Linked DNA regions of Homo sapiens. The protein of the gene in region 2 purifies or fractionates together with the protein of the main gene of each other region. This does not show direct contact. Each region holds a gene or a part of one and is shown on either strand. Other genes may lie near its edges.

The links.
Region 1: the proteins of LYPLAL1 (region 2) and OPALIN purify together in Homo sapiens (co-immunoprecipitation; one large-scale study listed by IntAct). This does not show direct contact.
Region 3: the proteins of LYPLAL1 (region 2) and CELA3A purify together in Homo sapiens (co-immunoprecipitation; one large-scale study listed by IntAct). This does not show direct contact.
Region 4: the proteins of LYPLAL1 (region 2) and SETD6 purify together in Homo sapiens (co-immunoprecipitation; one large-scale study listed by IntAct). This does not show direct contact.

Annotation. Positions count from the first base shown.
Region 1 is NC_000010.11:96,351,968-96,356,002, reverse strand, and holds part of OPALIN (opalin), read left to right. Parts: intron 1-712; coding exon 713-748; exon of another isoform or gene 749-807; intron 808-2,474; exon of another isoform or gene 2,475-2,547; coding exon of another isoform or gene 2,548-2,556; intron 2,557-4,035. UniProt on the Homo sapiens protein: Central nervous system-specific myelin protein that increase myelin genes expression during oligodendrocyte differentiation. Promotes oligodendrocyte terminal differentiation.
Region 2 is NC_000001.11:219,176,578-219,180,475, forward strand, and holds part of LYPLAL1 (lysophospholipase-like protein 1), read left to right. Parts: intron 1-2,569; coding exon 2,570-2,669; intron 2,670-2,822; coding exon of another isoform or gene 2,823-2,849; intron 2,850-3,898.
Region 3 is NC_000001.11:22,000,219-22,004,991, forward strand, and holds the start of CELA3A (chymotrypsin-like elastase family member 3A preproprotein), read left to right. Parts: upstream 1-1,438; 5' UTR 1,439-1,456; coding exon 1,457-1,499; intron 1,500-2,784; coding exon 2,785-2,870; intron 2,871-4,773. UniProt on the Homo sapiens protein: Efficient protease with alanine specificity but only little elastolytic activity.
Region 4 is NC_000016.10:58,514,316-58,518,851, forward strand, and holds the start of SETD6 (N-lysine methyltransferase SETD6), read left to right. Parts: upstream 1-1,201; 5' UTR 1,202-1,222; coding exon 1,223-1,249; coding exon of another isoform or gene 1,250-1,475; coding exon 1,476-1,782; intron 1,783-1,886; coding exon 1,887-2,028; coding exon of another isoform or gene 2,029-2,133; exon of another isoform or gene 2,134-2,162; coding exon 2,163-2,357; intron 2,358-2,492; coding exon 2,493-2,613; intron 2,614-3,580; coding exon of another isoform or gene 3,581-3,592; exon of another isoform or gene 3,593-3,704; coding exon of another isoform or gene 3,705-3,735; coding exon 3,736-3,916; exon of another isoform or gene 3,917-3,917; intron 3,918-4,085; coding exon 4,086-4,228; intron 4,229-4,408; coding exon 4,409-4,536. UniProt on the Homo sapiens protein: Protein-lysine N-methyltransferase. Monomethylates 'Lys-310' of the RELA subunit of NF-kappa-B complex, leading to down-regulation of NF-kappa-B transcription factor activity. Monomethylates 'Lys-8' of H2AZ (H2AZK8me1).

The DNA of each region.
Region 1 (4,035 bases), on a different chromosome or scaffold from region 2:
GGGGCTAGGGACAGGGAGGAGAAAGGAGCCACCTGAGGCCCTGGGCAGGCTACTTGGTGCTCCACTGAGCCCACGATCTTTAAATTTGGACTCCATATTTGCGGGAGAGGTGAGACCATCTACTAAGTGAGGGGAGGAAAGAGAAGGGTTTGCTGTTCCCCTGTCCTCCTGGCCACTTCAGCTCCAGCAACCTAGAACCTCTGCCTCAGTTGTAGCAAAAACAGAAGCCTTGCCTTCCCCGGGTAAGGATCAGGTGTTCTTGTTAGACCATGCCCTTTGGGGGTCTTACCTTCTACTCCAAGGAGAAAACACAAAATACTTCTAAATTCAACAGTTTTCTGTCTCAAAGGAGTTCTAGAGGGAATAAACATAATTTTAGCCTTTTGCTGAATTTCTAGTCATGTGTTTGCTGCCCTTGTGAATGGGACCCCTCAGACAATAGCCTTGCAGGCTGCCTCTTCATCTGATCCTGGTCGAGGACCTGGTTGGGGGCGGTGGCAAGACTGACTTGATGCTGAGGGAGGAACTCATGACAGGCTCCTTGCCTCCCCTTCCTTCTTTTGGGGCCAAGACTGTGCAGGACGATGGGGGCTGGCTGAGTCTATAGGATCAATGACCTCTCGGAATCCACCAGGGTCAGTGAGTTTGAGGAAGTGAGGAAGGAGCTTGCTGACCATCCCTGGGAGCTTTAATGTTTACTTCTATCTTGCAGAGTTTTTCACTGAACTTCACCCTGCCGGCGAACACAGTAAGTACAGCAGCCCCCATTCACCAGGCAACGCAGAGAAGACCAGTGCAGAATTTACAGTAGGTCTCCAGAACTCACATAAACCCCTCACACACGGTGATAAGTTACACAGACTTTCTTTTTTTTTTTTTTTTTTTTTTTTTTTTTTTTTTTTTTTTGAGACAAGGTCTTGCTCTGTCACCCAGGCTGGAGTGCAGTGGCATGATCTCGACTCACTGCAACTTCCACCTCCTGGGTTCAAGCGATTCTCCTGCCTCAGCCTCCTGAGTAGCTGGGATTACAGGTGTGCACCACCATATCCGGCTAATTTTTGCACTTTTTAGTAGAGACAGGGTTTTGCCATGTTGGCCAGGCTGGTCTCAAACTCCTGACCTCAGGTGATCCGCCCACCTCAGCCTCCCAAAGTGCTGGGATTATAGGTGTGAGCCACCGTGCCCGGCCATTTACATAAACTTTCAAAACGCACTGAGGAATAGTTGAGAGATGCTGAGAGAATTTATTTCCATTATAAAACTTATAAATACACATTTTGAAAAGGAAAATAGGAAAACAACAACAACAATAAAACACCTAAACTCTCATCAGCAGAAAACTGGTGTAACCCTTCCTGTCCTGTTTGGCGTTACATAAATTTTGACTTTTGTTGCCTTTGTACTATTGTTTTCTTACTCTACATATAATTTTATATCTAAATGTTTTCCACTAGTCTTTATAACCATAACTGTTATATGGTTAATCACATAATCATGTGATCATATTATGATCGCATAATATTTTTTCAAGTTAATTATTTCTTCAGTTGATTAACTATCATTAGGAATAACTTTGTGATACATGGCATTTTAGAGAATCCTTATCTGCATTTAAGATAATTTCCTTGTATGTATTCTAAAATGGGAATGATTGGGTCAACAAGAATGAACATTTTATGGCTCTTGATTATGGCATTTAGTTGCAAGTCAAAATTGAGGTTTTCAATTGTCGATGTTAGAGTTTCAATCCACAGCTGATCCTCCGTCTTCTGTTTGCACATTGCATATAGATAACACTAAGAGCCAAGGTTGTTATCTGATCAGTAGCACTACTATGGTTGAGCAAGGCATTTTTCTGGCCCAGTTTTTTAGTGGGCTTGGCTGTGCCACATTTTTCTGATAAGTTGTCTGGTTATTCAAAGAGAATAAACTGAATCTTACTCGTAAGAGGACTCCTAAGCCAGTGCTCATTTTACTGAAACATGGGGGCATAGTTCTAGAGAGTAGCATAAAGTTAGAACATTGTGACTTATTGCTGGACCTGTGGTGCCCACCACTGTCTGCCCAGACCTCTGTGAACTGAATACATTGGCACCTGCTCCAGCCTCTGGTGGGGGGCACTTCTGAACCTCCCCAACTTGCTCTGCTTCCCTGCTTCAGCTTCTGCCTGTTGGTTTCAGGCAAATTCCCTAATTCTTCCTCTTTTTCCTGTCAAAACCTTTTCCTTCAATCACTGCTGGAACTTTCCCCTGGCTGTTGGAACCCAGCAGGTCCATAGACACTCCAGGTTCTGTGTTATCTTGGCCCATCACATCAAGAGAATGCAGAGAAGCAAGAAGCCATTTCTTGGGGAGTGGGGGTGAATGGGGTGGAAGAGAGCCCTTATGTGGCCAGTCATCACCCTTTGGAGTACTCTCTTGGTTAACAGCTCATTTCTCTGAGAACTGTCTCTTCACCCCTTTGATCCCGTGTAGAGCAACCAACCATTTTGCTTTGCCTGGTGTTGTCTGTTTTTAGCACTGAAAGTCCTGGGCAGCTCTCTGGACAATGCGGATGGTAGGTCATCCTGCCTGGAAGTCACATTTCTACTGCATAACCCTTCCACTTCAGTGCAGCTGGGTAGCCTGGGAATGCCAGTGCCCTGGGAAGTGGGACAGAGGTGGGCACCTGGATCCCTCTCTGCGGGAAGTTTGGAACAGGGCTCCCTGCTGGCCAGTCCCTGCTGAGGACTGAAATGCCAGGTTCAGTCTATTTGTCAGTTCAGTCCATACTGAACTGTCAAGTATGAAAAATGGGACTAAGACACTGCATTAGGCCATGGAGGCCATGTAGCACAGTGGTTAAGAGCATGGATCCCAGAGCCAGACTGCCCGGGGGGGTGTCACCTAGGGCTGTGTGACCTTACACAAGTTACTTCACTTCTCTGTGCCTTGCTCCTCTCATCTGTAAAATGAGATCATCATAGTCCCATTACTATTCACTGGCAGTTGTATAGAATAAATAAGTCAATATGGGAAAAATTCTTGAACAGCCTGGCACATCCTAAGTGCTCCATGGCATTAGCTGGTACAATTAGCAGGAGTTTATGAGGGCAGAAAAGTCCATCTGGAGAGAAAGAGAGAAGCAAACATCAGAGAACAGTACAGGCAGAAGGCCGTGCTGCTCTGGAGCGAAGGAGAAAGGAGGGTGCCTTCGGTTCACACAAGTTCCCCGTTCCAAGGTCCACTCCCTGGAGAAACCAGCTTCCCACCTGTCCTTGGGCTCCATGGGACACTCCCATATTCTTAGAGTTAACACCTTCCTTTTTTTTTTTTTTTTTTTAGTGAAAGCCACCCTAAGTGTATTTCTGTACTCTGAAGACAGGAAGCCTTACCTGAAACAATGGCTGATTCTTCCTACTACCCTTAGAGCACCTTAGGGAAATGCAGGATTAAAGTAGTGTGGGGGTAGGGGTTGGGGAGATTGTGATTAGGTCAAAGGACAACCATTTAAGTACCAAGTTTCAGTGCCTGGTCATCAAAACCTTCTTTTGATGGGAGCTCTCTGGGAAAGAGGTCTGGGCTTGGAAGTCAAACATCCAAGTTCAGATTAGAGTTATGATTATCTGTGAAACCTTGGACAAGCCCCATAACTTCTCTGAGATCTATTACATTTTTTTTTTGTAAAATGGAGTTAATAATTGTCAAAAGTCCAAGCCCCAGGACTCCAGTATACTTGATGAGATTGCTGAGAGTATTAAATAAATAACAGATCTGGACAGAGCTTTGCAAAGTGTAAAGGGCTGACAAGAGTTCATAGTTCTGCTCCTCATTCAATCCTCCTAATAACCCTAGAGGCAGCTACTACTATCCCTGTAGATATTGTGTAGATAGAGACATGCAACCCCTTAGCTTGTAAATTGAGAAATGGCTGTTCTATGGCAGGCAGTGTGAGCCCAGGACCTGTGCTCTTAATCCCACAGCATACCACTTAGTGTAGTTTACATAGTTTCTCATGCAGAACTTTATTCCTTTAGATTTCCTAATCAAGGTAAAC
Region 2 (3,898 bases):
GCTCCTTCTGGTTTCTTTTGCAGACTCATCCTCCTCTACCTGGCCATTAATGATGGGGTTTCTCTAAATTTGGTCCAAGGTCTTTTCACTCTACATTTTTCTCCCTAGGCTAATCACAGAAGTCTCCTAGAGATACCCATTTGTGTCACTGGTGTATAGGTAAAAATAGAACCTTTGAATTTCTGTGGAGATTCATAGATTCTATTTTTGAGCTCTAGACAAGTTCATCTAACTGCCTGATAGACATTCATTCATGAATCCATTCATTCAAGAAATATATCACAGCCTCCATGTGTAAGGCACTGTTCTGTGCTCTGATCATACAGCAATGAAAAAAACAAATCACTGCTCTCATGGAGCTTATGTTCTAATGAAGTAAATAAATACTATAGTAGAAGGTAGTAAGTTTTATGGAAACAAGGAAAGCAGGATAAGGGGATTCTTCCATGGATGAGAAGTTGGAACAGTGTTACAATTTTAAATAAAGTAGTCAGGTTATGCCTCACTGCAAAGATGACAGAAGATGAAACTTCACAGCTAGACTTAGACTTGGCTTTAAAGCCAAGTCGGAGGCTCCAGGGTAGGGTCCTTGACATGTTCAAGGAACAGCAGTAAGGCTAGTGTGTCTGGAGTGAGAAGAATAGGAAGGGATATCCAAGAGGGTACTGGCATCCAGGTAGTGTAGGGCAGGGGTTGGCAAACTTTCTGCAAAAAGTCAGGTAAGCATTTTAGCTTTTGTGGGCCATGTAAGGTCTCTTCCCCATAGTTTTCCCTTCTCTCTCTTTTTGAGAAAGGAGTCTTTAATAATGTAAAACTCATTCTTAGCTTATCCTCCTTAAGGACCCTAGGCTGGATTTTGTCCTCCCCTCTAGCTGTCCATAGTTGCTCAATCAACCCATGGTATAAGACCTTGTATGCATTACAAAGAGGCACCTCACACTCAACCTGTGTATGCCTGTTGCTTATGTTTCCTGTCTAGGCAGGTGTCTAGTATTGTTCACCCAGTTACTCCGGCCAAAAGCCTGTTAGTCATCCATGAGACCTTTTACTGTTGACCCTTTATAACAAATCCGTTGCCAATCTCTATTAATTTTACCACCTAAATTTCTCTAGTATCTGTTTCTATCTACATCATCGCTGTAGTCTAAGCATGAACAGTAGTTTCCTAACTGATCTCTGTACATCTACTTTTGCTCTCTTTCAATTCTGTCTTGACACAGCTTCCAGATTGATCCTTTAGAATCATGCCAACCTTTCTGTCAGAAATATTCATGACTTCTTCATGAACAGATTTGTCACGTTCCTACAGTTTCTCTGGTCTCATTTTATAGACACTGCTCTTTTCATTCTCTGCTTTTCAGTTCTTACATGTCATACTGCTCCCTCTTATCCAGAATCCTGGCACCTGCCCTTTCCTCGCCCTGGGATACTTTTTTCTTCTGCCCTGCACTTCTCACCATCCTGTAGACTTTAGTTCAAACCATTCAGCAACTATATTTGGATACCCAGTTTTTGTCAGTCCTGTTCTAGGCACTATGTGAACAAATAACTCAGATAAAATACATCATAAACTTCCTCTTGCAGAGTTTATAGGCTAGTGCATTTATTGTTGAACTCCATAAACCCAGTCAGTTGTGAATAAAATAAATATTTGCAACACCAAGTGTCTCATTTTTGAAGCAGGTACATTTGCCTTTCACATTTATTTGTGTGATTTTTTGACTAATTTCTGTTTTTCACAATATGCTACACACTCCATGAGAATAGGGACTCTATTCCTCCCTCACCCCACCATCATTGCCTCTCTAGCAGTGAACACAGTGCTTGACACATTAACAGGGATTCAATAGGCAGTTTTTGAACTGATACCTTAATGAGTTAATTGATTAAAAAATTAAAGTTGTGACCTTAATTTCCTCCTCAGGACTCCATAAGATGGACTTATATTTCCTTCCATTTTTTTCTGTAAATACATATACATTAATATTTATATGGCTTTTTATTACTTACCAGCTTTGGAGTAGATAATTCTTCTTTTAGGTCATGTAAACATGTTGTCAAAATTAAATTATGATTTTTTCAAGTTAAAATAAAATTACACTGAACACACATTTTGGACTTTTTTTAACCAAGAAAATTAGGTTCTTCTAACTACAGAAGTTTAACAGTCACTTTAGGAATTTATTACTATTAAGAATATGATAAGAAATGACTATTAAAAGTCACATATAAATACAGAAATAAAATTTTTTTTAGAAAAATCAATTTATTTATTTATTCCTGTACTACCCACTAAACAAATTAGGTAACTTAAAACTTAAGCTTAAACAAGATCTTCAGAGTAATCAATGGTGAAGCCAGGAGTAAAATAATCAAAATTATTGCTAGTTATTGAGACCTAGTTAGTTAATTCATATTAGTAAGTCAGTTTCTATATGGTTATTATGATGTATGGAGCTTTTTTAAATCCTTTATTCCATCCTCTGTGTGACATAAAAGTTTTAGACTGCTTTGAAATGCATTGTATTACTAAAATATTTATTTTAATCTAGATTTTTTGATTCATCAGGTGATTCTGGACAAGGATTAAGAATGTGGATCAAGCAGGTTTTAAATCAAGATTTAACATTCCAACACATAAAAATTATTTATCCAACAGCTCCTCCCAGGTATGCAGTAATTTATCTCACTTGTCAATATAACTCTGTGGCATAAAATATATATAGAGAGATGTGCCAGCTAGGTGTTCTTTAAGCTTAATTTTGTATTTAACATACTTTAAATTAGAGTACTTTGTCCCCAGAATGTATTCTTTATTGCAGTTACACTGTTGGACCAAGTTTTGCCAGGTGAGTAATTTATTCCCTTTCTGTAAAGCATTCCCTAAAGCTCTGAATTTAAACTGTGTCCCAAGCATGGCTTATGTAACTCTGCTTCCTCTTGCCCTGCAGATTGCTCAACTTTCATACTTCTTCCCTACATTCACCCCAAAAGGAAACTTAATAACTCCAACAAGTATAATCTTTCTAATAATTTAGTTAAGCCAGAATTCATAATCTCTGGGAAAGGGTTTTATGGCATTCTTTCCACATTTAAAAGGATTATCAAGAAACAATGTTATGCTTTTTTAATCAGTAAACCAGAATAGGAAGATAGAATTGACTACTTAATAAATATTTAGGTTATATAACCTGTAGGTGTGTGCAAAAAATTCACAGTAATAAAACTGCTATAGTTTTGAGGTCAAACTACTCTTTGTAAATATTAAATTAACATCTGCATAGTCTTTTATTCGGAACACATGCCGTAAATCAGGGATTGGGATTTTTTTTTGGTTAAGTGAAATGATGTGTGGAGCTACGCCCCAATCTGATTTTTCTCATAATCTGTTCTTGATTTTTTTTTGTTTCTTTTTCTTCTTCTTTTTTTATTTTTTCCAGACAGAGTCTCACTCTGTTGCCTAGGCTGGAGTGCAGTGGTGCAGTCTTGGCCCACAGCAGCCTTTGCCTCCCAAGTTCAAAGGATTCTCCTGCCTCAGCCTCCTGCCTAGCTGAGAATACAGGCATGTGACACCACGCCCAGCTAATTTTAAAGACAAGGTTTTGCCATGTTGGCTAGGCTGGTCTGGAACTGTTGACCTGAGGTGATCCACTCACCGCGGCCTCCCAAAAGTGCTGGAATTACAGGCATGAGGCACTGCACCTGGCCTGTTCTTGATTTTTTTCTTATCAGGCATACTATGCAAATGCCTTGCTTTATATTTTCATTAACTTAGTATTAAGGAGAAATAAAACCAGAACTTCAAGGACGTTTTTATATGTACTAATAAGAATTTACTTACTTTAATTGATAGAATTGAAAAAGGGAGAACAAAATGATAATGTAAGACTGAAGACTC
Region 3 (4,773 bases), about 200 Mb from region 2:
TACTCAGGAGGCTGAGGCAGGAGAATCGCTTGAACCCGTGAGGTGGAGGTTGCAGTGAGCCAAGATCGCACCACTATAAAAAAAAAAATCTATTGTGTGAATATGCTACACATATTGACCTATGAACCTTGATGGACGTGGGAGTTGTTTCTAGGTCTTTGCTGTTGAGTTTTGAGAACAGGGGCTGCGGCAAACAATCTCATCCACACCTCCTGGAGCACATGCCTAAGGTTTTCTCACGGTATAGACCTAGGAGGGAAACGGCTGGATCACCTGTGAATTCCACTTTCGGGGTCGCCTGCTCTTTGACCTCATCTCCCACCCCTCTCTACTTTGACTACCAAGCTCCTGTCACACTGGCCTCCCCTTCCTTGAACAAGTCAAGCCCATTGCAGCCTCCAGAACTTCGCACCTGCTGTCGCCTCCCTTCAGAGCGCGTTTCTTTCAGGGATTCCCGTGGCTGGCTTTTACTTATCCTCAGGACTCCATCAGATATGACCTCCTCAGCCCAAATGTCACTTTCTCTGTCCCCCCCATCTAAATGACTTACTCCCATTCCTACCCCAATCACCTATGTTTCATTTTCTTTTCTTCTCTGTTTTTTTTTTTGGTTTTGTTTTTGTTTTTTGAGACAGTGTTGCTCTGTGGCCCAGGCTGGAGTGCAGTGGCATGATCTCGGCTCTCTGTAGCCTCTGCCTCTCCGCTCCCAGGTTCAAGTGATTCTCCTCCCTCAGCCTCCCAGTAGCTAGGATTACAGGTGCTGGGATTACAGGTGCTCACCACCACACCTGGCTAATTTTTGTAGTTTTAGTAGAGATAGGGTTTCATCATGTCTCGAACTTCTGACCTCAAGTGATCCTCCCACCTTGGCCTCCCAAAGCGCTGGGATCACAGGTGTGAGCCACCGCTCCTGGCCTAGACTCAAACTCTAGAAGGGCTGAGACCATGCATTTTTCACAGCTGTATCCCCTAGAACAGTGCCTGATACATAGAGAAAAAGTGCTCAACAAGAATTTTTTTGTGGAGGTGGGTACTAATATAAATCTCATGTTAGAGAGCAGAAAACTGAGACTCAGAGAGGTTAAGCCATGCGCCCAAAGTCGCAGAGCTTGAAGGTGGCAGAACCAGGATTGAACCGTGGTCTGCCCGGTTCCAGTGCCCCTGTTCTTTCCGAAAGAGGAGGTCTTGTCCTGACATGAGCTTTTCTTCCTGAACTCTTGTTATCAGTTGGCCACTCCACACCACCTGTCCAGCCACCTGTTGGAGGGAACGCTAGGTCCTCCCTTTGGCTGTCACTTGTCCATCTGCAGCAGGCGAGGACTGTGGCCTTGGACCATGGGAGACCTGGAGTTCCACCACCTGTTCTGGGAGTGGGGCCCAATCAGCCCCCCTGCTTACCTTCTGCCCTATATTAGAGCCCCAGGCTCTGTGCCCTTTTCCTATCATCACAAAACTCATGATGCTCCGGCTGCTCAGTTCCCTCCTCCTTGTGGCCGTTGGTAAGACCCCAACCTGTCTGTGTGCTCCCTGGGCTGCCCTGGACTAGGAATCCTTGAAATCTACCACTCGCTCTGAGTCCCATGACATGCTATGCCTGGTTCCACAGGAGGGGGTCTCAGCTTGTACCCGGGGGCATGACTGTAGGGGCTTTCAGCTTATGATGGAGCAGGAGAGTGGAGGGGAAGCTGTGGATGGTGAAAGACCCCCAAAGGGCTGTGGTGGAAGTCCTTGATGGGGGCAGTAAACAAAGTCAAACGGTTAAGAGTTTGGACTGTGTGGTTGGACTTCTTGGGTTGGAATTTCCACAGTTCTACTTACCACTCCAACTCTCCTCTCACTCCCCCTACCTGGCTCCATATTCTATGCTCTGGCCTTTTCCTGGTCTCTCTGCCATATTACATTCCAGCTCAGGGCCACCTCTTCCAAACAGCCTCCCTTGACTGACAATAATGGTAACAGATAACATTGATTGAGTGCTTACTATGCCAGGCAGAATGTTTAGGGATTTTCTTATACTTTCTCATGTAATTCTCACAACAGCCTCAGGAGATCAGTACTATCATTATCCCCCATTTTACTGACCCTCAAGGAAGTAAAGTAGCTTATCATAGAACAAAAGGCAGAGCTGCACTTAATGTTTTTATTTTTTGCTTTTTTTTTGTAGAGATGGGGTCTTGCTTTGTTGCCCAGACTGGTCTCAAAATCCTGGCCTCAAGCAATCCTACCACCTTAGCCTCCTGAGTAGCTGAGATTATAGGCACATGCCACCATACCTGGCTACTTTATTTTATTGTACTTTATTTTTCTAGAGATGAGGTCTTGCTATGTTGCCCAGGCTGGTCTCAAACTCCCGGGCTCAAGCGATCCTCCCGCCTCGGCCTCTCAGAGCACTAGGATTACAGGTGTGAACCACCACACACAGCCCAGAGCTGCACTTTGAACCCAGGAAGTCCTTCTTTAAAGCCTCCACTCTGTATGACAATAGCTCTCACTTTTTGAGGGCTCATCGAGGGCCAGGCATTGTTCTAAGTGTATCAAGCTCTTCAATCCTCCCAATGAAGGAGGCCACATTTGAATCTCTATCCCTGGACTCCTGGGATTCTGGAAAGCCCTGCTCTAGTTTAAATGTTCACTGTTCATATGTGGTTACTGAGGTCCAGAGGGCGAAAGGGGCTTGCATGGGGTCACACAGCCAGTTGAAGGCATGGCTTGGACTGGGACCCTGGCCTCCTCTTTGCTTTTGGGGACCCTCCAGCTGATTGACAGCTCTCCTCTCCCCTCTAGCCTCAGGCTATGGCCCACCTTCCTCTCACTCTTCCAGCCGCGTTGTCCATGGTGAGGATGCGGTCCCCTACAGCTGGCCCTGGCAGGTAAGAGCAATAGCAGCTGCCCTCATTCCCACCGTGGGCTCTGGACCCTAAGCTCTAATGGCGTGGCATCCAGCCTTGACACCATTGCTCCCTTTGCAATGTCCACTTCAGCTTCCAAAGACCAGGCAGCCCTTGGACCATCTACTTCACGGGGAGGTTTTGCCCGTTTCATCTGTAACCCTCACTGGGCTATTTGCAACTTAAAATTGGAATCGGGGGTGAAGGAAATGCTAAACTCAAGGAGTTGGCACACTGATGGTGGAATTTCAGGCACTGTGTTGACGAAGTGAGATTTTGAGAGACTCATTTCTAGATTCCTAGGATGATACTACAGGGCTTTGAGGTCTGAAAGCAATAAGGGAGTGAGGGATCTTGTAAGGCCAGTGGAGGGAAGCTCAGAAGGCTGGACTTGATGTGCTGTGGCTATTTAAATTTAATTAAATTAGGCCAGGTGCGGTGGCTCACGCCTGTAATCCCAGCTACTCAGGAGGCTGAGGCAGGAGAATCCCTTGAACCTGGGAGTTGGAGGTTGCAGTGAGACAAGATTGCACCACTGCACTCCAGCCCCGGGCAACAGAGTGAGACTCTGTCTCAAAAAAAAAAATTAAATTAAATTATTATTACTATTATTATTGAGACAGAGTTTCACTCTTGTTGCCCAGGCTGAAGTGCAATGGCACAATCTTGGCTCACTGCAAACTCTGCCACCCGGGTTCAAGCAATTCTCCTACCTCACCTCCCAAGTAGCTGGGATTACAGGCACGCGCCACCAAGCCCGGCTAATTTTGTATTTTTAGTAGAGACAGGGTTTCACTGTGTTGGCCAGGCCAGTCTGGAGCTTCTGACCTCAGGTGATCCACCTGCCTCGGCCTCTCAAAGTGCTGGGATTACAGGTGTGAGTCACTGCACCCAGCTGAAATTTACTTACATTAAAAATGTTAACAATTCATTTCCTCAGTGCTTTTTTCTTTTCTTTTCTTTTCTTTGTTTTTTTTTTTTTTGAGACAGGGTCTTGCTGTGTTGCCCAGGCTGGAGTGCAGTGGTGTGATCTCAGCTTACTGCAGCCTTGACCTCCTAGGTCCAAGCAATAATCCCACCTCAGCCTCCTGTGTAGCTAGGACTACAGGCATGCGCCACCATGCCCAGCTAATTTTTATACATTGTTGTAGAGATGGGGTCTCACTATGTTGCCCAGGCTTGCCTCGAACTTCTGAGCTCCAGTGATCCTCCTGTCTTGACCTCCCACAGTGCTGGGATTATAGGCGTAAGCCACCATGCTTGGCCTGCTTGCCACATTTCAAATGTTCAATAGTCACATGTGGCTAGTGGCTACCATATTGGACAGCAAAGATATAGAACATTCCCATGATTATGGGAAGTTTTATCGGAGAGGGTCAGCAGGCTTATTCTGTAAATGGCCAGAGAGTGAATATTTTAGGTTATTTGATGGTTTGGATAGTAATGACTTGACTGTGCCATGGTAGCATGAAAGCAGACACAAACAATACAGAAATGAATGTGACTATTTCCAGGACATCTTTATTACAAAAACAGACCAGAAGCCTGATGTGCCCCACTGTCCACAGTTTGCTAACCCTGGTCTAGATGGAGCTTTTGAAAATCAGAATGTGTAGGAAATGGGAAGAGAGGCAAAGAACTCATCAGGGTGAGCTGTGCTTCAGAAGGCTCAAGAGGCCTTGAAAGAGCTGAGGTTCAAAAGAGTCAGGGGGGCTGGGCGCGGTGGCTCACGCCTGTAATCCCAGCACTTCGGGAGGCCGAGGTGGGCAGATCACCTGAGGTGAGGAGCTCGAGACCAGCCTGGCCAACATGGTGAAACTCCGTGTCTACTAAAAATACAAAATTAGCCAGGCACGACGGCAGGTGCCTGTAATCCCGGTTACTG
Region 4 (4,536 bases), on a different chromosome or scaffold from region 2:
TAATTATTTAAAAGCTTAATATTTTTTCTTTAGTCAACATACCAATCCTTACATTAATTCTACAGAGTAGGTATTATCTTAGTTTCGCAGGTGAGGAGACTAAGGTTCAGGAAAAAGGATTTGCCTGAGTAACAGACCAGGCCGCGCGCGGTGGCTCACGCCTGTAATCCTAGCACTCTGGGAGGCCGAGGCGGGGGGATTGCCTGAGCTCAGGAGTTCGAGACCAGCCTGGGCAACGCGGTGAAACCCCGACTCTACTAAAAATAAACACAAAAAATTAGCTGGGCATGGCAGCGTACGCCTGTAGTCCCAGCTACTTGGGAGGCTGAGGCAGGGGAATTGCTTGAACCCGGGAGGTGGAGGTTGCAGTGAGCCGAGATCGCACCACTGCACTCCAGCCTGGGCGAGACTCCCGTCTCCCCAACGCGCCAAAAAAAAAAAAAAAAAAAAGGAAAAAAAAAAAAAACTGAGTGTTGAGCTGCGGCGTTGCTTGGCTTCAAAACCCATTCCTGTAACCTCTATATTCACAGCCTCATTTTCTTACATTTAACAGCATGCTACTTCCCCAGGTTTAACCACCATTTGTTTTATTCATTTATTTACCCAATAGGTAGATATTGAGTCCCTACTATGTCAGCTAATAAAACCCACCACGTGCTATGCAGCAGATTAAAAACGAGGATGTACTGGCAAATAAGGGCAGAGAGGATCTATTCTAGATCCAGGAGCCCTCTAGGCCACGCCACTCTGAAACACACACGAAAACTGCTCTGAACGAATACCACCAGTAAAAGGGTTCCATGGCCATCGGCAACAAGGGGTCGAGATCAGGAGGTCGCTCGCCGCCCAGTTGCGTCGCTCACCACCGGCCGGCCACCAGACCCTCGGCTTCCGATCCAGAAACCGTATTTTGTTCTTGCACCCAGACCGCAAGAAGCCTCAGCCCTCGGGGACAGACCGAAGGCCAGGGCTGTACCTGGCTCAGAACCAGGCGCCAAGCGGCACGGGACTCTCCTTCTGCACTCGCAGCGCGTGAGTGCAATTGGAGATCCTGGACTCAAGATGTTTTCATGAGGAACGATTCCAGCCCGCGGTAACTCCGGCCAGTCTGCAGCGTGGACGACAAAACAGGCACCACGTGGTTCCGGCGCCGGGGCGGGGCCAGAGACGCCGGAAGTGACCGCGCGGTGCGCCGGCCCGCGAGGAAACGCGCTCTTAGACCATGGCGACCCAGGCGAAGCGTCCACGGGTGAGTGGCGGGCGCGGGGTCCAGCCTTTTCCTCCGCGCCTCACCCCTTCTCCGTTCGCAGAACCGTCCGCCTGCGCCCCCTCCGCTCCCTCCCGCGGGTCCCGCGCCCCTCTCCGCTCGTCCCCTCCTCCACCCAAAGCCCGTTCTGCGCTCGCGCCGCGGTCTCCTGCAGTTCCCAGCGGCCTCTCTGGGGGTCGGACCTGGTCACTGCGCGCACTTATCTCAGGTGGCGGGGCCCGTGGACGGCGGCGACCTGGATCCTGTGGCCTGCTTCCTGAGCTGGTGCCGGCGGGTGGGGCTGGAGCTGAGTCCCAAGGTGAGCGAGCGAGCCGGCGGGCGGAGGACCCGCGGCGGGGCGCGGGCTGCCCTGACCAGCCCTCCTGCTCAGGTGGCGGTCAGCCGGCAGGGCACGGTGGCCGGCTACGGCATGGTGGCCCGGGAGAGCGTGCAGGCCGGAGAGCTGTTGTTCGTGGTGCCGCGGGCCGCGCTCCTGTCGCAGCACACCTGCTCCATCGGCGGCCTGCTGGAGCGAGGTGGGCACGGCGGCGGGCTAGGGCCCTGGGGCGGGGCGGGGCGGGGCGGGGCGGGCCCGGCCCGCGAGGCCGCGCCGGGGCGCTCACACCTGTGTCTTCCTCAGAGCGAGTTGCGCTGCAGAGCCAGTCGGGCTGGGTGCCACTGCTGCTGGCGCTGCTCCACGAGCTGCAGGCCCCGGCCTCACGCTGGAGGCCCTACTTTGCGCTCTGGCCCGAGCTGGGCCGCTTGGAGCACCCGATGTTCTGGTGAGAGCCTTGGGAGGGGTTGGGGAGCGCCTGCACCGTAGCCTGCTGCAAGAAGTTTCCCCGCCCCTGCACCAGTCCTACCCAGTAAAGTGTGTGAAGGAATGAAGGGAACCTGGGTGTGGGTGTCCCTGCAGGCCAGAGGAGGAGCGCCGGTGCCTGCTCCAGGGCACAGGCGTACCTGAGGCCGTGGAGAAGGATTTGGCCAACATCCGCAGCGAGTACCAGTCCATCGTGCTGCCCTTCATGGAAGCCCACCCCGATCTCTTCAGCCTCAGGGTTCGCTCCCTAGAACTCTACCACCAGCTGGTGGCCCTTGTGATGGCCTATAGGTCAGTGGGTGGGGCCTCTGAGGACGGAACCCTTTTCTTTACAACTCTATAGAGGGACAAAAGTGGAAAAACAGTGAAATCCACCCCCAGTCCCTCACCCAAGACAGGGCCTTAGCCAGGTTCTGTCAATGGCAGCTTTCAGGAACCACTGGAGGAAGAAGAGGATGAAAAGGAGCCCAACTCCCCCGTGATGGTGCCTGCTGCAGACATACTAAACCACTTAGCCAATCACAACGCCAATCTAGAATACTCTGCGGTGAGTGGAGTTTCTCTTGGTGCACTGATTGAGCATGATTCAAGCCATTGTGTCTTAGGCTCCATTCTCTTACTAGTGCTACAAAATGAGTAGGTGAAATCAGCTCCTCCTGTATGTCCTTTTAGTATGCATATTACTGTAGAATCATTTGAATGCGAAACATTTTAAAGTCCTCAAAGTAAGTTGTGGTTAATCCTCTGATAAACTATACTACCATCATTTATTTAGTGCTAGACATTGAGTGGTCTGCATAGCCATGTTTCATTCCTTTCTGGCTGATCACATCAGTGAGCCCAGACTGTGTGTGGCTCTGTGGATAGCAGCCTGGAACAGTGATAGTCTCCGTGTTTTGGAGGGATGAGGACATTCACAGGCCAAAGGTCTAAGACGATCCTAGAACTGATATAAAGCTGTGTTTATACCAGCTCTATTCTATATAAAAAGTAGCCTGAAAAGATGGCACATTTATAGGATCAGAAATTAGTAAGTATGGTTATTTCTTAATCCTTGCCTCCATTTTCCTTTCCCACTTTGATCTGCGAAAGTTCCATTTTTTCCCCCCCGAGGCGGAGTCTCACTGTGTCGCCCAGGCTGGAGTGCAGTGGCGTGATCTCGGCTCACTGCAACTGCCGCCTCCTGGGTTCAAGCAATTCTCCCTGCCTCAGCCTCCCGAGTAGTTGGAATTACAGGCTCCTGCCACCATGCCCGGCTAATTTTTGTATTTTTTAGTAGGGATGGGGTTTCTCCGTGTTGGCCAGGCTGGTCTTGAACTCCTGATCTCAGGTGATCTGCCCACTTTGACCTCCCTAAGTGCTGGGATTACAGGTGTGAGCCACTGCGCCTGGCCGAAAATTTCGTTTTTAAAGCTAGCAACTTTTTAAGTGCTGAAGAGGACTGTGCAGAAATCCACCCAGTTAAACATGAAGCTGGCCTTTTAAAGTTAGCCCAACCCTTTTTTGTTTCACAGTTTAGGGTCTAACAGGAACTAAAGGTAGAACTTTGGTAGTTAACAGCATCAGTCATGGCTGAACTACACCTGCTGAAGGCTCTTCTTAAGTGGAAATAATCTTCATGGGGCTGGCCCGTGAAAGGCATGGCCCCAGCTTCTCCCTTTCACCTCAGAATTGTCTTCGGATGGTAGCCACTCAGCCCATTCCTAAAGGCCATGAGATTTTCAACACTTATGGGCAAATGGCTAACTGGCAACTGATTCATATGTACGGTTTTGTTGAACCATATCCTGACAACACAGATGACACAGCTGACATTCAGATGGTGACAGTTCGTGAGGCAGCATTACAGGGTGAGTGTATCATTAACTCAATATTTGACACTGATGGTGTGTCTATACCCATGCCTCAGGTTAAATAGCTTTGCTAAATAGCAGTTGACTTTGTAGACTGGGTGGCAGACTAAAGAAGAAATGAACCCTTGGGTGTACTGAGACTTTCACATTGCTGTTTCATCTACAGGAACAAAAACTGAAGCTGAAAGGCACCTAGTGTACGAGCGCTGGGATTTCCTATGCAAACTGGAGATGGTAGGGGAAGAGGGAGCCTTTGTGATAGGGAGGGAGGAGGTGCTGACTGAAGAGGAGCTGACCACCACACTAAAGGTAAACGGCTGAAAATGGCCATTTAATGCTGATAATCTAAGTATTTAAAGCAAAATAGCTAGAAGATGAGAGAGGAAATGTGGGATTTTTAATAAATGCTAAGATGAGTTTAGTCTCCTGAGTCATTTCAGAAGTACAAAAGCAGTACATCTAATTAAAGAGCTCTGTGGTTGCTTCTAGGTACTGTGCATGCCTGCTGAGGAGTTCAGAGAGCTTAAAGACCAGGATGGAGGGGGAGATGATAAAAGGGAAGAGGGCAGCCTGACGATCACAAATATTCCCAAGCTCAAAGCATCGTGGAGACAGCT